Regions from separate parts of the Homo sapiens genome. Here region 2 is linked to region 1. Evidence: fine-mapped QTL for protein levels in blood plasma. A gene starts in region 1. The other region holds a variant in brackets. All regions are shown on one strand. Distances are between the middles of the regions. Region 1 holds the start of PLXNB2 (plexin B2). Region 2 overlaps PLXNB2 (plexin B2).

What was found. PIP is the posterior inclusion probability: the model's chance that the variant is causal. Protein levels are from the aptamer-based SomaScan assay of Sun 2018.
Region 2: its variant is fine-mapped to the plasma level of the PLXNB2 protein (Sun 2018, PIP 0.95). The variant lies in the coding sequence of PLXNB2. If it changes the protein, the assay may bind it differently, which can mimic a change of level.

The regions. Positions count from the first base shown.
Region 1 is chr22:50,304,502-50,313,135 of GRCh38, reverse strand. It overlaps PLXNB2 (plexin B2), which reads left to right and starts at 5,490. Exons shown (of 37, transcript NM_012401.4): 1 at 5,490-5,583. It overlaps DENND6B (DENN domain containing 6B), which reads left to right. Exons shown (of 20, transcript NM_001001794.4): 17 at 28-137; 18 at 511-613; 19 at 719-793; 20 at 875-4,106. The coding sequence ends at 997. RefSeq lists silencers at 4,419-4,468, 5,169-5,218, 5,379-5,578, 5,589-5,658, 6,179-6,329 and enhancers at 6,878-7,247, 6,637-7,836.
Region 2 is chr22:50,280,003-50,294,561 of GRCh38, reverse strand. It overlaps PLXNB2 (plexin B2), which reads left to right. Exons shown (of 37, transcript NM_012401.4): 3 at 3,965-5,045; 4 at 5,420-5,602; 5 at 5,691-5,819; 6 at 6,525-6,625; 7 at 6,769-6,895; 8 at 7,298-7,451; 9 at 8,275-8,389; 10 at 8,464-8,572; 11 at 8,661-8,762; 12 at 9,897-9,989; 13 at 10,349-10,430; 14 at 10,572-10,729; 15 at 10,812-10,960; 16 at 11,117-11,225; 10 more. The coding sequence starts at 3,978. Among named protein-coding and RNA genes, the nearest start is that of MAPK11, 17 kb to the right of the region's middle. RefSeq lists enhancers at 1,840-1,889, 11,246-12,445 and a silencer at 2,010-2,069. The variant A/G (reference allele first, on the strand shown) is at 10,824.

The sequences.
Region 1 (8,634 bases):
CGTGCTGGCTCACCCATCCCCTCTCAGACTCCCCCCCAGATCCAGCCCTTCAGCCAGGATGACTTCCTGCGTAGCCTGGAGCATGCTGGGCCCCAGCTCACCTGCATCCTCAAGGGCGACTGGCTGGGTCTCTACAGGTGCGTGGACTGCAGGTGCAGGCAGCTTGAGCCCTCCTTGGTCCACAGGGTCAGCCCCATGGCCCCCCGCCTGTCAATCCCCAGGGTCATCCCCATGGCCCCCCGCCTGTCAATCCCCAGGGTCAGCCCCATGGCCCCCCGCCTGTCAATCCCCAGGGTCAGCCCCATGGCCCCCCGCCTGTCAATCCCCAGGGTCAGCCCCATGGCCCCCCGCCTGTCAATCCCCAGGGTCAGCCCCATGGCCCCCCGCCTGTCAATCCCCAGGGTCAGCCCCATGGCCCCCCGCCTGTCAATCCCCAGGGTCAGCCCCATGGCCCCCGCCTGTCAATCCCCAGGGTCAGCCCCATGGCCCCCCGCCTGTTAATCCCCACAGGCGGTTTTTCAAGTCCCCCCATTTTGATGGCTGGTACCGGCAGCGGCACAAGGAGATGGCCCTGAAGCTGGAGGCCCTGCACCTGGAGGCTATCTGTGAGGCGGTGAGAGAGGCTGGGGGTTGGGGAGGGCCAGAACATGGTGGGGGTGGGCACAGGCCCAGGGCAGTGAGGGGCCTTGCTGACAGTAGACCCCGTCTTGCCCTGCAGAACATCGAGACCTGGATGAAAGACAAGTCCGAGGTGGAGGTCGTGGACCTGGTCCTGAAACTTCGTGAGAAGCTGGTAAGATGCCTCCCAGCCTTGTCCCAGCGCCACCAGCCTGGCACGGAGCTGCGCCTGCCCTGACCATGGCTGCCCCTCCAGGTGCGGGCTCAGGGCCACCAGCTCCCTGTGAAGGAGGCTACGCTGCAGCGGGCACAGCTGTACATCGAGACGGTCATCGGCTCCCTGCCCAAAGACCTGCAGGCTGTCTTGTGCCCTCCCTAGAACAAAGCCAAGGGCCACGGTCCCAGGGCCCTAGGTCTGCCTGAGCCTCCCACTCCCCAGTGGTGGCGGCACTGGGCCAAGCACACGCTCCCCTTCCTTGGCCCCCCGCCCAGACTGCAGGCTCCCCTTCCTGCACCACCATTGTCTCAGCAGTAAAGGCGACATTTGGAACCACAGCATGGCCTTGACCATAGGGGTTCCTCGCAGGCAGAGCCTTGCCTCCTCCTGGGTCCCACCTGGCCTCTGCAGACCTTAGGCTGGGACGGGGGCGGGGACAGGCTGGGAGCCCTTGCTGATGTGGGTGCGTCTACCGTCTGCCCCTCCCGGTGCCCATCTGTTGGCCCCCGACCCCCCTGCGCTGTGTGTGATGCTTCCCTCAGCCCAACAGGCTGCCCAGGACAGGAGGGACCCTCTCCTGACACAGCCCCCGTCTTGTCTGGGGATGGGAGGCTATTTTGCATATAGTCATCAACTTGAGAAAGGGAGAGACCACTTTGCAGTGTGAAGAGCTCTGCTCACCACCCCTGGTGCTCCTCTGGACACCCACCTGCTTGGGGCTGTGGTTTGTTGGGAGGTAGGGGTTGGGCAGGGGGCTGTGTGCAGCCCAGCACCTCTGCTAGGAGAGCTGGCTCAGCCTGGCTCTCGGAGAGCCACAGCACCTTCCTGGCTCCCAGTCCTGGAGCCCCCACCAGGCACCAGCTCCGTGCGTCCCTTCTGGGAGGTGGACAGGGCTCCTGTTGTCCAAGTGTGTCCGTCCATCCCCCACATGCAGCCCAAGGGGCTCTGGACTTCGGCCTGACCCTGCCTCTGGCTGGAGCCTGCATGTCTCCCTTTCCTTGGTAAGGGGTGAACGTCCCTAAGAGCCACCTCTGGGTTGTATGCTCCCCCCGTGACACCTGCAGGCACTGAGGCCGGTGAGGTACGGTGTTGACCCTGCACAGCACACAGTGACGGTACTGTCAGGGCTCCGGACAGCCAAGCCCTGCTCAGCATCACGCACTGTGTGCCCGGGAGCAGGTCCCCTGACCACTCAGACCCTCAGACTCCTCATCTGAGCGAGCCAGCCATGCAGATGCCCGACAGGGTGCTGGGAGGGCCACTCATGGAGACTGGGCTTTGTACCCTGTGAGGCCGGGCGGGTGCTGGCCAGGGGACACAGGGCTGGGGGAGGGACTTTTTCTTTTTTTTTCTTTTTGAAATGGAGTCTCGCTCTGTTGCCCAGGCTGGAGTGCAGTGGCATGATCTCGGCTCACTGCAAGCTCTGCCTCCCGGGTTCACGCCATTCTCCTGCCTCAGCCTCCCGAGTAGCTGGGACTACAGGCACCCACCACTGCGCTTGGTTAATTTTTTGTATTTGTAGTAGAGACAGGGTTTCACCATGTTAGCCAGGATGGTCTCGATCTCCTGACCTCGTAATCCGCCCGCCTCGGCCTCCCAACGTGCTAGGATTACAGGCATGAGCCACCGCGCCCGGCCGGGACTTTTCTTTTTCTTCTGAGGCCCCCATTCAGTCCGAGGAATGTAGCCTTCATTCAGCGCAACGTACTGTTTGTGTTCTCATTGGTGCTCTCAGACCTCCAGCCAGGTGGTGGAGAGCGAGCACTGCCAGCCACTTCAGTGCAGGATGTGACTGAGCCACAAGGACAGCGGGGTCAGGTGTCCGGGCGCCAGGTAGTTCTCAGAACTTGGTACATGTCAACTTGTCCAGCCCAACTGCAGCCCAGGACAGCCTGTCCCTGTTCCCATTCTACAGACAAGACGCGGAGGCAGCCGGGAGGGTGACCAAGGGGAGCTGTTAAGCCCCAGATGTCTGGTGCAGGGTCCAAGGATGTGACCACATGAAACAGAACACATAGAGGCCGAGGTGGCAAACCTGTTCTGTGGCAGGGACAAGCCGGGGACCCGAGGGTGAGAAAGGTCCTGGCCCCAAATGCAGCTTGGGCCTCCTGACTGTAGCACAGGGGGACCAGCCTCCCCACTGAGGGCTTGGTCTCTAGAGGGTCTGCAGAGATGCTGGCACCTCTTGTGTGGGCAGCTTGAATGCTGACCTCCATAAGATGGGGCCTGGGGGGCCAGTACAGGCCCTGCCATCAGCTGCCCTCCACCAGGGCCCTCTGCAAAAGCCTTATGCTGGTGACCAGCCCCCTGAGGACCACCACTTCAAGGTGTCGGGGCAGCTTGGGAAGACAACCCACCTCTCTCACAACTGTGACCCCACTTTGGGGAGCGCACCCCAAGGACCGTGGCAGCATGTGCTTCCCCACAGCACAGTCTCGCCTCACTTGGCTTTCTGAGGGCTGCCGCACAGCACAGAGGGCTGCAGACCCACATGGCTGCAGGGGAGGGGCTTCAGGCTGGTCTCTGAGGAGCCCCCAGGGACCCTGGCCACTGTGTATCCAGAAATGCACAAGCAGATTTCCCTGGAGGGCTCTGGTGAGGCCACATAGTGGCGTGTGAAGGGGGAACTTGAGGGGGGAACCGGGCTGGGTGGCCAGCATTGCCCTGGGCAGAAGCTAAGGCTAAGGTGGGGGGTAGTGTCCCAGCCCCTCTTCCTCAGGGCCTGTCCCCACCTGTGCAGAAGAGGCCTGGGGTGGAATGTGGCCTGGGGTGGATGGGTGGGGGCTGGGCGTGGAGACCTGCCAGCTCCATCTGTCCGGATGCCTCTTGTGGCCCCCCCAGTGTCAGGGCCGCTCTGAGTTGGCTGAGCCTCTGTCCAGGGCTAGGCCATGGCCCTCCCCGCCCCACGCACTCCAGGCCAGGGGCAGTCAGTGAAGAGGCAGGAAGGTCCAGACAGCTCTACCCCTGGCCAGAGTGCCAGCCCCCGCAGGCAAGAGGGCTTGCTGGGCAGAACTTAGTTGGCGAGGGTGAGGACTGCTGTGGTCACAGGCCTCCCGAAGGACAGGGACCACAGAACCTAGAGGGTGGGAAGGGCTGGGAGCAGGTCTGGAGTGGGGCTCGGGGCTGAGGGTGCACACAGGGGGCCTGCTCAGGGACAGGAAGGACAGCTGCTCACCCTCAAGCTTCCTGCTGGCTATTTAAAGACTCCCTTTTAGTCTAGAACAGTGGCCTTCCCACAGTTTTGGTATTAAAATGTCCTTTTGTGACTGGACCTTGTCTTTTCCTTTTTTGATAAAAAGTTGGCAACCTTGTCAGAACCTGGTAATTTTGGGGTCCTCTGCAGTGAAGGGTAGGGTTGCCGTGATGTGGATTGTGGTTCAAGGCCCAAGGGAAGATTTTGGACAGGAACAAGGCCTGGCTGCTTGAGGGTGGGAGAAGGCAGAGACTGAAAGAACTAAGTCAGGCTGGGGGAGTTTGTCAGGATGTGGCGGGGCGGATCCCGGGTGGGGGAAGCAGAGGAGGAGGGGATGCCTGGCTGGGGACAGGAGGAAGCTGACCAGCTGCAAGGACGGGGCAGGTCTGGGTGGAAGGCGGGCCCCAGGGAGGGGTGACCCAGGGTGGGGGCAAGAGCTTGGGGAATGCTTCTGTCTCCTGCTCAGCACATCCAGTTCCGGGAGGGCAGTGGAGGCGTGCTCCAAGGTCTGGCCCTGCAGACGGTTCACCACCTCTTCTCAAGCCCAGGGGACACTAGGAGCACTGAGGCCAGGACTTGGGACCTGGGATGCCAGAAGTGGGGCCAGCTCTGTCCCAGAAACCAGAACCCCCAGAAAGAGGTCTCGGCCCGCCCACCTCCTGGCCCTGAAGGACCAGGTGGGGTCCCGGGTGCAGCATCCCAAGGTGCTGCTGGAGGCCAGGGATGTGCTGGGAGGCCATCTCCAGGTCCCAGTTTACCCTGGGAGGTTGAGGGCCTGAGACCCCTGGGAAAGGGCCAAAGCCCAGCAGCCCCCACCCCTGAAGGCCGCAGGGGAGCGACTGGTATGCTTCCAGTCTGGGAGTGAGAGTCTGGTGCCCACACATCTCAAGACTGGCAGGGACCCTCACGTTCCTCTGGCCAGGCGAGAGTGCACTCATAATGCCCTCCCCTGGTACCAAGCCATGGCCTCCCCTCAGACCTGCGGGGTTCCTGTGGGGGTGCTCAGGCCATGGGGCCTCTGTGGGCGCTCGTGCTTCCTGGACGGCGGCATGGTGGGCAGGGTGCTGCCCTGGCTGAACCTGGGTCTGAACTGGGGTGCCTGAACCTACCAGACAATGCTGTGGCCGCTGGGCAGGGGAGAAGTGGGGGGCGCGGGGAGCGCAGGCCCAGCCCCTCCCCTCCCGTCCCCTCCCCTCCTCTCCGGTTCTCTTCTGCCCTCTCCTCCCCGCTCCTGCTCCCCCTCCCCTCCCCCTCCCCCTCTTCCCCCTCCCCCTCTCCCCCTCCCCCTCTTCCCCCTCCCCCTCTCCCCCCTCCCCCTCTCCCCCCTCCCCCTCCCCCTCCTTCTCCCCCTCCGCTTTCCCTCTCCCTCTCCCCCCTTCTCCTGTTCTCCCCGCCCTCCCCTCCTCTCCCTCGTCGGGGGCGGGGCCGGCAGCTCCCGCGCGCTCCGGCCCCTCCTCGGCCACACAAAGGCCCCGTCTCCATGGCAGCAGCGCGGGCCAGAGCGCAGCGCCGAGCGCGGCCCGGGCGCCATCGAGCCTTGGCGGCGGACGTGCAGGTACCGAGCTCGGGGGACTGGGCTGCGGGGGACGTCTCGCTGGGCGTGGGGGGGGCTTCGCCGTCAGCGCCGCTCCGCCCGGGCCTGCCGCGCTGGGGCCCGGGGACCTGCGGCGGCTGCGGCTCCGCGGAGGGCTCCCGGGGCCTGGGCCCCGTCCGTCGGTCCATCCGGCGAGGCCCGGGCCGCTGCCGCCCCACTCCCTTCCCGGTGTTGACTCGGGGGACGGGCCCGGCGGCGGGGGCTGCGCGTCCCTCCGGAGCCGCGTCGGATCCCTCCTCCGCGCCTGCCTCTCACTCTTCAGCCGCCGAGCTCCGTGCGCCGAGCGGAGATGGTCTCGCGGTGCGGGCGCTCCGGGCCGGCCCCAGGCTCAGCGGCACAGGAGCCTGGATTTGCCCGAGCTCCCGGGGGCCGTCCCCGCACCCCCTGGGGCCTGCTTGGCGCGGGGGGACCAGGGCGGAGAGCACCCGCACCTGGCGAGACCCCACTGCCTGGGCCTCCTCGCGGTTCCCAGAGTGGCGTCTGGGTGGACACCCCGAGACACAGAAAGTCTCAGAAGCGGGGGCGCGAGCCCTGCCTGTCCCCTGCTGACCCTGCCCCTCCGCACCCTGCTCCTGCAGGAAGCCCCTGCCCTGCCAGCGCCCCTGGTCGGGCTATTCGGCAGATCTGGGGAGCCCGCCTCCCCCTGTCATCTGGGGGTCTCAGAGCCCGGACGCCCTGGGGCTTCCTGCCAGGCCCTTGATTTCTCTTCCCGAAGCTCCCTGGGAAAGGAAGAAAGGGGTCCGTCTGCCCACTGTGGGCTGTGGCAGAGTCAGGACAGGGGGTGAGGGTGAGGGTGAGGGTGAGGGTGAGGGTGAGGGTGAGGGTGAGGGTGGGCCCCAAACCCGGCAGATCCCGGCGGCCTGGAGGGCTCCCTGTGCCCCACCTTCCCTGGACCCCCCCGCCCTCCCCACTTAATGTCTGACTTCGGCCCTTGCTTGGAGGTTCGGCGCAGCCTGTGAGGCTTTAAAGTTGAGCTTCCTCAGGAGCCCTTTGCGGGTGGGAGAGCGAGGCTGCCGGGAAGTGGGGGCTCTCAGCCTGCCCCATGCCCAGATGACCCTGGCACGGAACAGCTGAACAGCTGGTGGGAGGAGCCCTCCCTTTCCTGTCCAGAGGTGAGGGTCTCCCGGAGGGCAGGGCCAGCAGGCATAGGTTTGTGGCGAGTCAGCTTTTTGCATGTTGCATAGAAATCCCCAGAGCCGACTGAGAAGCAAGCAGGTGGGCCTGGCACATCTGAGTCCTCCCACGGTACCTATGGGGGGCCCACCTCTGTCCCGGGGGGTCTGGGAGGCCTGAGGTCTGGCCAGGGGTTCCTTGCCCCAGTAGAGGAGGGAAGTTACTGAGAAAAACAAGGGTTTGGAATGTGAGTCCCCCTCCCCCACCGGCTGCCTGCCAAGAAAGAATTATTTTGGATCATCCAGCCGTGTCCAGTCACCCGAAGCGGGAGGCTGCAGCGTGGGAGAAGGATCCACTTCCGGGACGTGGGTTGAGGGCCCCAGGAGGAGGACGGGCAAGTCCGGGCAGCTCTGCCACTTTCTACTGCAGCTGCCCAGACTGGGCGGGGAGAAGATGCGTCACCTTTGGGTTGGAGAAAGCCCCAAGGTTGGCCCCAGCAGGCCCTGCTGAGCCTGCAGTGGGCCCAAGCCCCTCTGGGGGAGACCATGGAACAGGAGGAGCTCTGGGCCCACCCAGGGACCCCCTCGCCCCACCCAGGGACCCCCTCGCCCCGAGAAGTCTCAATGGTGGTCTGAAGAGCCTCTGAGGTACCCTCCAGGCCCAAGTTCAGGGACACACCCTGTGCCAGTGACCTGTGCGTGCCAGGGAGGAGCAGGCAGGAGCGAGGCTAGGCTGCTAGGGAGGGCACTGGGGTTTCCCTCAGGGGGCCCTCCTGCCCCAACGGACTCCCTATTCAGCTCCTGACTAACGGACCAGCCTCCCTCCAAGCCCCTCCGACAGCCAGTCCTTGCCTACGACCCCCTCTGGATATGGCGCCTGTGAGCCCATCCTGCAGGTGGGGAGACTGAGGCCAGAGATAGGTCTATGTGAGGAGTCATCTGCGATGCTGTGTGGCCAGGGCTGTGGCTACCTGGCGCTCTGGGTCCATGCTGTGTGTGCGCCCGGGGTGTGTGCCCGGCGGCCTGCATGGGGACCACATCGGGGAGGAGGAGCCGGCAGCTGGCCCCAAGTGCAGAAAGCCCAGAGCCTTGGACCCGGCCCAGGGAAGTGGAGCAGAAGAGATTGGATTGGAAGGTGGTGGGGAGGGCCCATATGGCACAGTCCTCCTCCCATCCCAGGACGTCGTCCGTGCTCACCGTGTCCTGCCCCCTGCCTCACCCTGTGCCAGCCACAGCTGATGGTCCCCCTGGGACGCGGGCGTGGGCAGGGGTGCACTGGCTGGGAGAGGCTGTGTCTTCCGGCCCCTCATATTGTGCCTTCTCTGAGCTAGGCAGGCACTTGGATGCCAGGCCTCTGCCACGAGGGCTGCCTTCCCCTGAGCTGGGAGTTCTCACTCAGCTCATGCCTCCGTCCCTCTGGCTGCAGCCTGGCCGCCCTCCTTGGAAGTTGGCGGGGAACCTCTTGTGCCCAGAGCCTGCCTTGGACACGGTTTGGGGATGAGGTGGTGAGCTGCTCAGAATTCACCCAGTGGCCAGCAAGTGGCCCCCCAGCCTTGACCTCCCTTCTCTGAGGCAGATCCAGGTTCTCTGGGGGTGGGAGATTCAGTAGGGCTGGGACTGGCCACAGCCCCTCCCTCCCTCAGGGGTAGTGGCTGTTTGTGTTTGGGGTGGGGCTGTGGGTGGGGTGGGGCTGGGTCTCTGACTAATTACACGATGGGGAGGGTGGGTCAGAGCCTTGGCTGGTGGGGGGTGCTCAGGCTCTGGGGCCCCGGGGAGGCAGCTGCCCTAGCTTCCCTCTTTCTGGTCGAGGTTCCTCCACCTTCTTCCTTTCCGTGGTTTCACATCCCTTGACACAGGGCCTGCTTCTTCCCATACCCCTGGATTGTAAGGACCCCTGCCT
Region 2 (14,559 bases), 22 kb after region 1:
ATGGAAGTGGGGAGCTTCCCTGCCCATGGAGCCGCTGTGAGGCTCCCATGGTTCTCTGAGGCCAAGCTGTTGCTCAGGCCAAGCTTTTGCTCAGGTGGAGTGGTCTGCAGTGAGACTGTGGCACCGGGTTCTGGGACATCAGGGCTGGGAATTGGAGCGTTGGGGGTGTGGTGGGGGGGTGCCTGTGCAGACGCTTTGTGGGCAGCAGCAGCTGGAGTTGCTGTGGCCTGGTCTGGATGGAAGTGGGGAGCTTCCCTGCCCAGCAGCAGCCGGAGTTGCTGTGGCCTCTTGAAAGTGCCCCTCCGAGCTTCAGCCAGGAGGAAGGCACCAGAGGGCCCGAGGAAATCCCCGCCAGCCCCGTAAGTGGGGGTCCCAGGAGGGCTTCAAAACAGGAAGTGCCTGCTGCCCGCCCTCCCTCCTGTTCCAGGAACACAGGCAGCAGGAAGCGTAGCTGGCTGTGCCTGGCGCCTCCTGCGCCGCCGGAGCTTTGCTGCTGGTCCGGTGGGTTGCCCTTTGCTCCTGGGCCTGGGCAGGCAGGTCACCTGAGGCCTTGTTTGTCCAGGAACCAGAAGGCAGCTGCCACCTGTAGGGTGTCACCCCAGCCGCGCCTGCCACCCTGAAAAGCCTGGGCCTGTAGGACCCTGGGAGTCAGGCTTTCCCTGGTGGCACACGGTGGTGTTTATTGAGCACTTAGGGTGTGCCAGCCCCCGGCAGGGACAGGAGAGCCTTCTTCCTGTACCGGGGCCCCTACAGCCCTGGCGGGTGGGTGAGTGTCTTCCCTGGGTGGAAGCTGGGGGACGGCTGAGGGGTGGCTTGTGGGGGCCCAGAGCCATTGCTTTTCCTGGGGCTAGGGGCGCCGCAGGGTTCCCCAGGCTGCCCCACCACGGTCCGGGCCAGATCCGAGGGGACCGTGGGCCCCGCCCCCGCGCTGCCCCCGCATTCCCCTCCCAGCTGCGGGCGCATTCCATTCATTCCCGGGAGCTGCGCCTGGCTGAGGCTGCCTCTGCCACTGCCACCGAGCTGGGCCGGGTGAGCGAGCTGGGCCGGGTGAGCGGGGCTGGGAGGGGAGGGCAGCAGGCCTGGGCGCAGGGCCGAGGGGCCTGGACGTTGCCTGCCCCCGCTGGCGCCACTGGGTGCACTTAGAAGGCGGGGGCCTGCGGGACCTGCCCCCGGGTGGCTGTGGGTAGGGGAGGGGCGCGGCGGGGGTTGGGGAGCCTTCGGGCAGGCGCTGCTCCTCCCTGGTAGGGCCATGGGCTGTGGCTGTAGCCTACGGGCCTCTCCTGGAGGCCTGGGACTCCTGTGCCCTCCTCTCCTCTCCCCTGGACAGGCCACTGAGCCACAGCGGGGGACCCTGGCTGAGCTGGGCATAGAACCCCCTCCACCAGGATCATGCCCAGAGGTTCCCGTGGGCTTGTAGAATCTTCCTGTCTCTCACTAAAGCCAGCATCTTTTCCTGGCTGATCACCCCTATCCTGGTGAAGCCTGGGGTCCCATGGCCCTACCCAGCCTCTCTGCCACCAGTCGGCCAGGAACTCCCTAGCCTGTGGGTGGTCACCTCTCCCAGCGGCTGCTGTGCTCGTGGGCACCTGGGGGGCTCCAGGGGTTGGGCAGCAGCTGAGCACTGAACCCCCAGTGCAGGGAGGGAGTTCTGTGCCGGGCAGGAGCTGCCTGTCTAATGGGTGCACTCCCAGGGAGCAGGAAGGCCAGTGCAGCGCTGTCTCACTCATGCGGGCCCTGGGGTGGCTCAGATGTTGTCGGTCGGTTGCGTCTTGGTTACACCTCAAGAGATTTCAGGAAGCGTGCGGGCAATCAGAACGGGGGGTTGCCACGGGCAGGTGGAGGGCGGCTGTGCCAGTAAATGCAGCTTCACCCAAAGCCGAGGCTCGGGAGAAACACTTCCCCTGGCTACGGAGCAGCAGAGCGGGCTCCCCTGCCCTCCTGGGAGGACAGAGGCCAGGGGGTTTGGGGGGTTGTCAAAAGGGTGGAGAAACACAGTGGTCAGAGGCCAAGCTGCTCCCACTGCATGTCAGAATCCCAGCCCCACCCATGCCCGCGGTGTGGCCTTGGGTAAATTCTGCTCCGTGCCTCAGTTTCTTCACCTGAGAAATGGGTCACAGGCTGTCGTGGTCAGCCTGGCCGTCAGAGACACAGGGATGTGGAAACATTTGCATTTTGTGGCTTGTTCTTTGTACACTTAAAACTTTTTTTTTTTTTTTTTTTTTTTGAGACAGAGTCTCGCTCTGTCACCCAGGCTGGAGTGCAGTGGTGCAATCTTGGCTCGCTGCAACCTCCGCCTCCCAGGTTCACGCGATTCTCCTGCCTCAGCCTCTGGAGTAGCTGAGACTACAGGCGGGTGCCAGCACGCTTGGCTAATTTTTTTGTGTTTTTAGTAGAGACGGGGTTTCACCATGTTGGCCAGGCTGGTCTCAAACTCCTGACCTCGTGATCCGCCCGCCTCGGCCTCCCAAGGTGCTGGGATTACAGGCGTGAGCCACCGGGCCTGGCAAAACTTTCAAATATGTGGTGAGAAAGCGGATTGCGTTTCGAGGGGATGAGACATATGCAGGGAGGTGACACTTGTGGTGGCCTGAGAGGATGTGGCAGTCCCTCTGGAGGCACGGGGTGGGCCTGCACAGGGAGGTGGGGGAGGCCAGGGCCTCCATCCCTCGTAACCCTCTGCCATCGAGTCTGGACCCCCTTGGCACCTGCCATGGCAGGGCTGCCCTGGACACCTGGGAGCCCCCCGTACTGGTGCACTCAGGGAAGATGATGGTGGGCCCAGGAGTGGGGGTGGTTGTGAGCATGAGGAGGGGGCACTGGCAGGGGAGGCTGATGTAGGGATCACTGGCCAGGATGGAGCAGGGTCCCTAGCGTGAGAGGGACGGACCACCCTGAGGAAGAGCTCAGAGGCAGAAGGGCCCTGTCTCTGCCACTTGTGTCTGAGCCCCCAAGATGCAGTTGAGTCTGGTAGGGAGGGAAAGAGAGAGGACCACGCATGTCCTGGGTCCACCTGTGGGGCCTTGGATCTTCCTCCTATTGGGAGACCCTCAGCTCAGCCTGGTCCTCAGCAGCTCACCCATCACACCACACATCCCCCTCATCCACCCGGACCCAGGCACAGACCCCACACCGAGACGTGCTCAGTTACACACACGCATGTGGACACAGCCTGTCCAGGCTGCAGATGTGGGGGCCTCTGCCTCTGAGACCTGGTGGATTTGGAGTTGCTCATGGCTCCCCAGGTCCCCTTGTTGCCTCCGCTGTGCGCACATCAGAGGCTGTGCCCTGGGCGTGACATGGGCCGAGCGAGGAGCTGTGGGTGATTGCTGGCTTCCACTGTTTCACCAGGGCAGGGGGCCTGGAGGTGGTCAGGGAGGCTCAGGCCGCCTGGGGGCTCTGGCGGGCAGTTGTAAACAGCATGTGCACTTGCTGGGCTATGCACAGGGCACCCCTCGCTCTCACCTGAGCCTCTGGTTTCCCGTGTCCTTCACCTCTGCCCCATGGGTGAGCCACCTGTTCCAACGTCCAGGGGTCTGTCTGTCAGCCTGAGCCTGTGCGCTGGGGCCGGTGCGTCCCGACCACCTGGAGCTCCTTGGGGTCACAGGTCAGGGGGCATGAATGTGAGCACTTGAGAGCCTTTCTGGGGGCGTCAACTCCTTGCCTCGGGGATAGGCCTGCCGGTGTTTTCAGCACCTCCGGGAGGGATCCTGTAGCAGGCGATGGCAGTGCCTTGGCCCCAGTGGTCAGTCAGGGTGGACTTGAGGAGGGCTGAGAAGTGGTCTCCGGCGAGACCTCGAGGATGGCGGGGGTGTGAAGCAGGAAGGGGCGGAGCTCCAGGTTCCTCAGTTCGTGGAGTGGCGTGACCCTCTCTCCCATGTTCTGACGTTTGGGGCAGGGACTGGAGAGGGATTTGATCGGGGGTCCTCTGGGTCGGGGCTCCCCTGACCCTTCTCTCTTCCCACAGGGTGCGGGGGGCAATGGCACTGCAGCTCTGGGCCCTGACCCTGCTGGGCCTGCTGGGCGCAGGTGCCAGCCTGAGGCCCCGCAAGCTGGACTTCTTCCGCAGCGAGAAAGAGCTGAACCACCTGGCTGTGGATGAGGCCTCAGGCGTGGTGTACCTGGGGGCGGTGAATGCCCTCTACCAGCTGGATGCGAAGCTGCAGCTGGAGCAGCAGGTGGCCACGGGCCCGGCCCTGGACAACAAGAAGTGCACGCCGCCCATCGAGGCCAGCCAGTGCCATGAGGCTGAGATGACTGACAATGTCAACCAGCTGCTGCTGCTCGACCCTCCCAGGAAGCGCCTGGTGGAGTGCGGCAGCCTCTTCAAGGGCATCTGCGCTCTGCGCGCCCTGAGCAACATCTCCCTCCGCCTGTTCTACGAGGACGGCAGCGGGGAGAAGTCTTTCGTGGCCAGCAATGATGAGGGCGTGGCCACAGTGGGGCTGGTGAGCTCCACGGGTCCTGGTGGTGACCGCGTGCTGTTTGTGGGCAAAGGCAATGGGCCACACGACAACGGCATCATCGTGAGCACTCGGCTGTTGGACCGGACTGACAGCAGGGAGGCCTTTGAAGCCTACACGGACCACGCCACCTACAAGGCCGGCTACCTGTCCACCAACACACAGCAGTTCGTGGCGGCCTTCGAGGACGGCCCCTACGTCTTCTTTGTCTTCAACCAGCAGGACAAGCACCCGGCCCGGAACCGCACGCTGCTGGCACGCATGTGCAGAGAAGACCCCAACTACTACTCCTACCTGGAGATGGACCTGCAGTGCCGGGACCCCGACATCCACGCCGCTGCCTTTGGCACCTGCCTGGCCGCCTCCGTGGCTGCGCCTGGCTCTGGCAGGGTGCTATATGCTGTCTTCAGCAGAGACAGCCGGAGCAGTGGGGGGCCCGGTGCGGGCCTCTGCCTGTTCCCGCTGGACAAGGTGCACGCCAAGATGGAGGCCAACCGCAACGCCTGTTACACAGGCACCCGGGAGGCCCGTGACATCTTCTACAAGCCCTTCCACGGCGATATCCAGTGCGGCGGCCACGCGCCGGTATGGGCCTCAGTGTGTTCTCGCAGGGCCCGGACTGCAGGCGTCCGTTCGTGGGTTTGCGTGTCCCAGCCTGCTGGGGAGGGTGCACGTGAGCAGTGTGGCCGTGGCTCTCGCCAGCCTGGGCGCTTGCGTGGGTGGGTGCCGCATCTCTCAATGCCATTCACGCTGGCGCCAGTCCCAGGCCTGTGTCGGGCACTGGGGAACACAACAGTGAGCACGGTGGGGCTCCCTGCCATGTGGGTTCTGTTCTCGGGGACGTGTGTAGGACGTGTGCCGGAGGGAAGGGAAGGGCCTGTCCCGAGTCTTGGAGCGCGAGTGGAGAGGGCCCTTCAGGACAGGGGGTCTGCCTGCCATTGACACGCTGTGGTCCGCAGGGCTCCAGCAAGAGCTTCCCATGTGGCTCGGAGCACCTGCCCTACCCGCTGGGCAGCCGCGACGGGCTCAGAGGCACAGCCGTGCTGCAGCGTGGAGGCCTGAACCTCACGGCCGTGACGGTCGCCGCCGAGAACAACCACACTGTTGCTTTTCTGGGCACCTCTGATGGCCGGATCCTCAAGGTTTGGCCCAGGCTGGGGCGGGGAGGCTCTGGAGGGCCCGTCTGTGCACAAGGCCCGTACCCTCACCGGCCTGCCCTCGCGCACACAGGTGTACCTCACCCCAGATGGCACCTCCTCAGAGTACGACTCTATCCTTGTGGAGATAAACAAGAGAGTCAAGCGCGACCTGGTACTGTCTGGAGACCTGGGCAGCCTGTACGCCATGACCCAGGACAAGGTGAGCCAGACGCAGCCCCGGAGAGCACTCTAGGCCAAGTGTGCCCGGTCATTGCATCCCAGGCCCTTAGGACAGGCCTGGGGGCCAGAGGAGGATGGGGTGCTGCAGAGCTGGGCCCTTCTCCTTGGTCTGGATGAGGGGTGGCTGGGTGGGTCCCGGGCAGTGCCTCCATCCTGTGTCTCTCTAGCACTGCCCCGTCTCTGCCGCTCCTTCTGTTTGTCCTTTGTGGTCTCAACCATGTCTCTCCCTCTGGCCCCGCCTCTGCCCTGTCCTGATGGAAGGGACCTGGGTTGGTGTCTGAGGCGTGTTGCTGAGGGTGGATGGGAAGACGGGGTCCCTGCACAGCCCATGTGAGCTCAGTCAGTGGAGAACATGGGCCTGGGCCCCAAGCTTGTGGGGGGTTAGTGCCAGAGACCCTCAGGCCAGCCCTAGGAGCACCCCTCGGAGGGAGCCAGTGTAGAGGACAGGAGCTGCCCCGGGAGACACCATAGCCAAGACCTCCAGGCTTCCCTGGGCTCCCATCGGGATCCTGGGCCAGGCATGGCCACCCAGAGCCAGAACTGTTTAATATCAAGCCTGAGGTGTCTGAGGCTCCCGAGGCCCCGGGACAGAGCTGGGTCAAGCTGGCGGTCTGGGGACATCTGGGGTCTGCGGAAGGCCCGTGCGGCCTCTGCTGTGGTCCCACTCACGGCCCCGCTGCCCTAGGTGTTCCGGCTGCCGGTGCAGGAGTGCCTGAGCTACCCGACCTGCACCCAGTGCCGCGACTCCCAGGACCCCTACTGCGGCTGGTGCGTCGTCGAGGGACGGTGAGTGCCTGGGGTGGCTCGGGGACACGGCCTGCCTCTGGGATCCCGGAAGGTCGTGGCCTGGGTCGGGGGGCACATCGCACTGTCCTGTCCCGGGAGAACAAGACTCCACCCTGGGCTGAGGCCGCCCCCTGCGCCTGCAGATGCACCCGGAAGGCCGAGTGTCCGCGGGCCGAGGAGGCCAGCCACTGGCTGTGGAGCCGAAGCAAGTCCTGCGTGGCCGTCACCAGCGCCCAGCCACAGAACATGAGCCGGCGGGCCCAGGGGGAGGTGCGTGGTGGGTCTGGGGTGGGGGTCCTGGGCCCCAGGCCGGGCCAGGTGGGGGCTCCCCCATGCTGGGAGCTGTTGGGACAGGCAGGGGAGGGCTCCACATCTCCCCCGCCTGGGCTCTGGGCACCGAGCCTTAGGGATGGAGCCCGCCCTCCATTGGTCCCCTGGACCCCTATGACCTGGGCGGGCAGGGGTGGGGCTTGTCCATATCCAGGGTGGACTCAGGCCCTGTCCCAGGAGTTGCTGGGGTGACCACAGAGAGGCCTGTATTGGAAGACGTGGAGTCGGGTTCTGGAGGCTCCACTGGGACGTGCGCCCACACACGCAGGGAGGTCGGGTCACCGGCAGGTGGGCTGACAGGACTCGGGGTTCCCAGTGTGAGCGGCACGGCCCCTCCCTCAGGTGCAGCTGACCGTCAGCCCCCTCCCTGCCCTGAGCGAGGAGGACGAGTTGCTGTGCCTTTTTGGGGAGTCGCCGCCACACCCCGCCCGCGTGGAGGGCGAGGCCGTCATCTGCAACTCCCCAAGCAGCATCCCCGTCACACCGCCAGGCCAGGGTGAGGCCCCTTCCCGAGCCCCCGGGTGGCCCTTCTCGGTCGCACGGGGCCCTGTGCACACGGGCTCTCGCCTCTGCTGGCCCCTGGGTGCAGGCTCTGCACAGGCACACTCCGCGGCTGCTCCGGGGGCCCAGCCTGAATGAAGCCTGTGGTGGGGTTGCTGTGCCTGTTGGGGAGGTTCTGGCTTCTTGGGCTGTCCGCAGCCACGCCCCCCAGGCCTGTAGCAAAGGTGACTTGTCTTCAGCCTGCTCCCTCATCACGTCCGGAGCGGCATGTGGGTGCCAGGCGCCAGGCCCCGTCGTCTCGGCAGACGCCCCTCACCCCTTCCTGCCATGTCCAGCTTCAGAGAGCAGGGCCGTTCCCAGAGGCTGCAGGGCCTCGCATGTGGGCCAGGGCAGGCGTCGCGCCCATGTCCCCTGAGTTTTGGGGGCAGTGGGGCCACGCAGTGACGTGGGCAGGGACCTGGCAGGTCCCACTCAGACTCCAAGGAGCCGCTGCCCTCAGTGCCTGCGGGAACAGAGGGTATGAAAGCAACCTGGACCCGGGGGAGAAAGGCAAGCCCGGTGCTGCGCCCGACACCCGAACCAAGATCTGATAGCAGGTGGCAGGTCCAGCCCAGCGTGAACGGGCGTCCTGGCAGCCCCACCCGAGATCTGATAGCAGGTGGCAGGCCCCGCCCAACATGAATGCGGGGCGTCCTGGCAGGGCCCCCTGAAGACCAGGGGTCTCCACCTTGGCCCCAGGAGTCAGCCCCAGGGGAGGCCCAGCCTGGCCCTCGGCCCTGCGGCCGCCACCTTGACACCTCCCCCTCTGCTGTCTGCAGACCACGTGGCCGTGACCATCCAGCTCCTCCTTAGACGAGGCAACATCTTCCTCACGTCCTACCAGTACCCCTTCTACGACTGCCGCCAGGCCATGAGCCTGGAGGAGAACCTGCCGTGAGTGTCTTGTGCCCATCGACCCCACCCTGCCCGTCCACCCCAGCCCTGCTCACGATCCCCTCTGGATGCAGGTGCATCTCCTGCGTGAGCAACCGCTGGACCTGCCAGTGGGACCTGCGCTACCACGAGTGCCGGGAGGCTTCGCCCAACCCTGAGGACGGCATCGTCCGTGCCCACATGGTGAGGGGCCTCGGGGCCTCAGGGGACTGTTCAGGGCATGGCTGCTCCGCTGTGCCCAGGCAGCACCTGACCAGCCTTACTCTCCCAGGAGGACAGCTGTCCCCAGTTCCTGGGACCCAGCCCCCTGGTGATCCCCATGAACCACGAGACAGATGTGAACTTCCAGGGCAAGAACCTGGACACCGTGAAGGTGCGGAGGGAGGGGTGCCGGCTGGTGACAGGCAGGCTCAGGTGCGGAGGGAGGGGTGCCGGCCGGTGACAGGCAGGCTCAGGTACGGAGGGAGGGGTGCCGGCCGGTGACAGGCAGGCTCAGGTGCGGAGGGAGGGGTGCCGGCTGTGACAGGCAGGCTCAGGTGCGGAGGGAGGGGTGCCGGCCGGTGACAGGCAGGCTCAGGTGCGGAGGGAGGGGTGCCGGCTGTGACAGGCAGGCTCAGGTGCGGAGGGAGGGGTGCCGGCCGGTGACAGGCAGGCTCAGGTGCGGAGGGAGGGGTGCCGGCCGGTGACAGGCAGGCTCAGGTACGGAGGGAGGGGGTGCCGGTTGGTGACAGGCAGGCTCAGGTGCGGAGGGAGGGGGTGCCGGCCGGTGACAGGCAGGCTCAGGTGCGGAGGGAGGGGTGCCGGCCGGTGACAGGCAGGCTCAGGTGCGGAGGGAGGGGTGCCGGCCGGTGACAGGCAGGCTCAGGTGCGGAGGGAGGGGGTGCCGGTTGGTGACAGGCAGGCTCAGGTGCGGAGGGAGGGGTGCCGGCCGGTGACAGGCAGGCTCAGGTGCGGAGGGAGGGGGTGCCGGTTGGTGACAGGCAGGCTAAGGTACGGAGGGAGGGGTGCCGGCCAGTGCTGATGGGTGTGTGGGAAGCCTGAGCTCCACCCGTGCCCCCCGACTCGGGGCCCCCACATGAGGTAGAGGGCACAGGATTTATCGGGGACAGAGGCCAGGAGGCAGCACTCGGGGGCCTTTGGATGGGCCTGAAGAGAGGCAGTGGAGGAGGCAGGCGTGTGGAGATTGAGGGGCCAGTGCCACCTCCTGAGGAGGGAGCTGTGGGGGCCACGATGTCAGGTGGGCCGGGCGATGTTCTCAGGTGTGGATGAGTGGTGGAGGTGGCCGTGGGAAACCCACAGAGGACGTTCAGAGGCTTCTGCAGACACAGGTGTTTGGGCTCAGGAGTGGCCGAGGGGTCAGCTGGCATGGTAATCTGAGGGGCGGGCATGTGTGGGGTGAGGAGAGGGCTCCCACACTGTAGGCACAGAGGAGGGGCTGCAGGGGTTCTGGGAGGAGGGCCAGGGTGCCACAGCCGCCTGTCCAGGGTCCTGACGGCATGGTCTGCAGGGTTCCTCCCTGCACGTGGGCAGTGACTTGCTCAAGTTCATGGAGCCGGTGACCATGCAGGAATCTGGGACCTTCGCCTTTCGGACCCCAAAGGTACGGCTCCAGGGCAGGCCGGCTCGGCTGCTGGACCCCAGGGCCCCGGGTGGGGTGGGGGGTCACCTTCAGGACTGTGAGGGGAGGGGCAGCAGGGAGACCCCAGGGACCAGAGCCCAGCCAGGGGCTCGCCATGCCCTGTGCTGCTGGGGAAGCCCCCTCTGCCCTCTGCCTCCCTGGGGACAGAGTGGCACAGAGCAGCGTCCATGGGGTTCCCGAACTTCCGACACCTGAAGGCCTCCCCTGCTGCCCTTGGCTGGGAAGGGACCCGGTGGCCACAGGGAGGCTGCCCTTGTGACCCCCGCCCCACGCCCCTCTGTGGGGGCAGGAAGTGCAGTGTGCCCCTGCGTGTCCCCCAGCTGTCCCACGATGCCAACGAGACGCTGCCCCTGCACCTCTACGTCAAGTCTTACGGCAAGAATATCGACAGCAAGCTCCATGGTGGGGGCCACGGGCGCAGTGGGGGGCGGGCAGGGGACGGGTGGGCACAAGGCGGTGGGTGGGGGGACAGGTGGGCGCAGTGGGGAGCAGGTCGGGGGCGGGCAGGCACGGGGTGACCACTGACGGCAGCTCTCCCCGCAGTGACCCTCTACAACTGCTCCTTTGGCCGCAGCGACTGCAGCCTGTGCCGGGCCGCTAACCCCGACTACAGGTGTGCGTGGTGCGGGGGCCAGAGCAGGTGCGTGTATGAGGCCCTGTGCAACACCACCTCCGAGTGCCCGCCGCCCGTCATCACCAGGGTGAGCCCCTCGAAGCCTGGCCTACACCTTCCCTCGTCCCTGGCATGAGCCCCTCCCTGCTCACCCGGCTCTGTGGTTTCAGATCCAGCCTGAG[A/G]CGGGCCCCCTGGGTGGGGGCATCCGCATCACCATCCTGGGGTCCAATTTGGGCGTCCAAGCAGGGGACATCCAGAGGATCTCTGTGGCCGGCCGGAACTGCTCCTTTCAGCCGGAACGTTACTCCGTGTCCACCCGGTGAGTGGACGGCCCTGGTCTGGGCCCTGTCAGCTGGGTCAGTACCCACGCTGGGGTTCCGGGTGACTGGGTGGGTGGGGAGGCTGAGGGGGTGAGGGTGTCAGGGTGTGGGGTGGGTCGGGGAGTGCCTGGGCCACACTGCCTGTCGCCCGCCAGGATCGTGTGTGTGATCGAGGCTGCGGAGACGCCTTTCACGGGGGGTGTCGAGGTGGACGTCTTCGGGAAACTGGGCCGTTCGCCTCCCAATGTCCAGTTCACCTTCCAAGTAAGCACCCGGCCTCGGGGACCTGCCGAACCCGGGAGGACCGGGAGGAGGGGCTCTGCCCGCCGCCTCCCCACGACAGTTACCATCCAGCCCAGGACCGAGGGCGTCCTGTGCCCCGTCCTCACCCGAGTGCCCCTGCGGCTCTTTCAGCAGCCCAAGCCTCTCAGTGTGGAGCCGCAGCAGGGACCGCAGGCGGGCGGCACCACACTGACCATCCACGGCACCCACCTGGACACGGGCTCCCAGGAGGACGTGCGGGTGACCCTCAACGGCGTCCCGTGTAAAGTGTGGGTGTCACCGCCAGCTGCTGAGTCTGGTTGGCCCTGGCCCTGGGTATGGAGGGGGGCACTTACTGAGACCTGAGTGGCCCTGAGGGGATGGCGGGGCCAGCCTGGTCGGGCTGGGGCTGGTCCCGGGGGAGGGGTTGATGCAGACCAGCACCCTCCCTCCCCCAGGACGAAGTTTGGGGCGCAGCTCCAGTGTGTCACTGGCCCCCAGGCGACACGGGGCCAGATGCTTCTGGAGGTCTCCTACGGGGGGTCCCCCGTGCCCAACCCCGGCATCTTCTTCACCTACCGCGAAAACCCCGTACTGCGAGCCTTCGAGCCGCTACGAAGCTTTGCCAGGTGAGGCTGGTGTCCCCCCGCCCCCCTCTGCTCCCCACACCCAGCTGCCTCCTCAGTGCCCTTGGCTGACTGTGCTGAAAGGAATGTGGTGGGGCTGGTCTGTGCAGCGGGAGGCGGCCTCCGGAAAACCCCACTGCACTCCAGATCCACTTCCTCCTAGAAACCCAGATGGGCACACCAGAGGCTCCACGCTCACCAGGCCCCGTGTGCCCCCCGCCCACTTGCGGCACAGTCTCGTGCTCAGCACGTCCCACCGCGTTGCCCCTTTGCCCACCGAGACCCACACATGCACCTGGAAGCCCCGTGTGGTCAGGGCCAGGGTGGGCGGGGACGGGAGGGCGGAGGCTGCAGGGACCACCCCTGCCAGCCGAGCCCACGAAGGCACTGCCCTCCGCAGTGGTGGCCGCAGCATCAACGTCACGGGTCAGGGCTTCAGCCTGATCCAGAGGTTTGCCATGGTGGTCATCGCGGAGCCCCTGCAGTCCTGGCAGCCGCCGCGGGAGGCTGAATCCCTGCAGCCCATGACGGTCAGTCCTGGCGTGGGCTCAGCTCTGGCACCGGCCCATGGGATCGTGCCCAGGAAGGGCGGGGTCTGCGCCCGGGGGCTGACAGCTGGGACTTGCCTGCAGGTGGTGGGTACAGACTACGTGTTCCACAATGACACCAAGGTCGTCTTCCTGTCCCCGGCTGTGCCTGAGGAGCCAGAGGCCTACAACCTCACGGTGCTGATCGAGATGGACGGGCACCGTGCCCTGCTCAGAACAGAGGCCGGGGCCTTCGAGTACGTGCCTGACCCCACCTTTGAGAACTTCACAGGTGGCGTCAAGAAGCAGGTCAACAAGCTCATCCACGCCCGGGTGAGGACGGTGCAGCCCCGGGTGTCTGGGTCCTGCTCGGGTCTGGGCTGAGAGCTGGTCCACCTGTCCCTGGTTCCCTCCTCCTCACCCCGACCACTGCCGCCTCCCCAGGGCACCAATCTGAACAAGGCGATGACGCTGCAGGAGGCCGAGGCCTTCGTGGGTGCCGAGCGCTGCACCATGAAGACGCTGACGGAGACCGACCTGTACTGTGAGCCCCCGGAGGTGCAGCCCCCGCCCAAGCGGCGGCAGAAACGAGACACCACACACAACCTGCCCGAGTTCATTGTGCGTGAGCGGGGACTGGCGGGGGGTGCCCCCACGGGACCGCGCTGAACCCGGCCCCCCACACAGGTGAAGTTCGGCTCTCGCGAGTGGGTGCTGGGCCGCGTGGAGTACGACACACGGGTGAGCGACGTGCCGCTCAGCCTCATCTTGCCGCTGGTCATCGTGCCCATGGTGGTCGTCATCGCGGTGTCTGTCTACTGCTACTGGTGAGCCCGCCCCCCGGCTGTGCCAACACCCTGAGCCCTCGGCCCTCCCGCCTCGGCCCCTCTGGCCTCATCCGCCGCCCTGCACAGGCAGGCGTGTAGATCCACCTCCTCATCCGGGCAGCTGAGCGGCCAGCCCCGGCAGAACCTAGGAGGCCCGCTGTGCCTTGCAGGAGGAAGAGCCAGCAGGCCGAACGAGAGTATGAGAAGATCAAGTCCCAGCTGGAGGGCCTGGAGGAGAGCGTGCGGGACCGCTGCAAGAAGGAATTCACAGGTAGGGACCGCTTGGGGGCTGGTGCTGGGGCGCCTCCTGGGGCGGGGATGCTGTGTGTAGCGTGGGGGTCAGGGCCCCACGTGGCCAGGGACGTCTCACGCCAGCCTCCCCCCAGACCTGATGATCGAGATGGAGGACCAGACCAACGACGTGCACGAGGCCGGCATCCCCGTGCTGGACTACAAGACCTACACCGACCGCGTCTTCTTCCTGCCCTCCAAGGACGGCGACAAGGACGTGATGATCACCGGCAAGCTGGACATCCCTGAGCCGCGGCGGCCGGTGGTGGAGCAGGCCCTCTACCAGTTCTCCAACCTGCTGAACAGCAAGTCTTTCCTCATCAATGTGAGCCAGGCGTCGGGCGGGCGGGAGGGCACACAGGTGGCGCCGGGCAGGCTTTGACCGCCGGCCCCTACAGTTCATCCACACCCTGGAGAACCAGCGGGAGTTCTCGGCCCGCGCCAAGGTCTACTTCGCGTCCCTGCTGACGGTGGCGCTGCACGGGAAACTGGAGTACTACACGGACATCATGCACACGCTCTTCCTGGAGCTCCTGGAGCAGTACGTGGTGGCCAAGAACCCCAAGCTGATGCTGCGCAGGTGCACATGGGCGGGGCCACGAGCGGGGCCACGGGCGGGGCGGCCGCAGGGGCTCTGGGGCTGGTGGCGGGTGGCACAGCGGCCTGTTGGGCCCCCAGGAGCCGGCAGGTGCCAGCCAGCGCTGGTGGTGGGGGGCGGTCTAGGGGTGGTGTCCCCGGCCACAAACTCAAAGCCGGACTCTAGCCCTTCCTGTCCAGCGGTTTCAGCTGGTCACAGTGTCAGCCCTCTGCAGAACAGAAGGAAGGTGGCACACTTCCCACAAGGGCTGGAGCTGCCACCAGGTAGTCCTCGCTGCAGGCCACACCCAGGCTGGACAGGGGCGAGGCTGGCGCAAGGGTGGCCGGGTGCTTGGAGGAGTCAGTTGGGCCTCAGGAATACTACGGGGTCACTCGGTACAAGGCCTCCCTGCACCCCCAGGTCTGAGACTGTGGTGGAGAGGATGCTGTCCAACTGGATGTCCATCTGCCTGTACCAGTACCTCAAGGT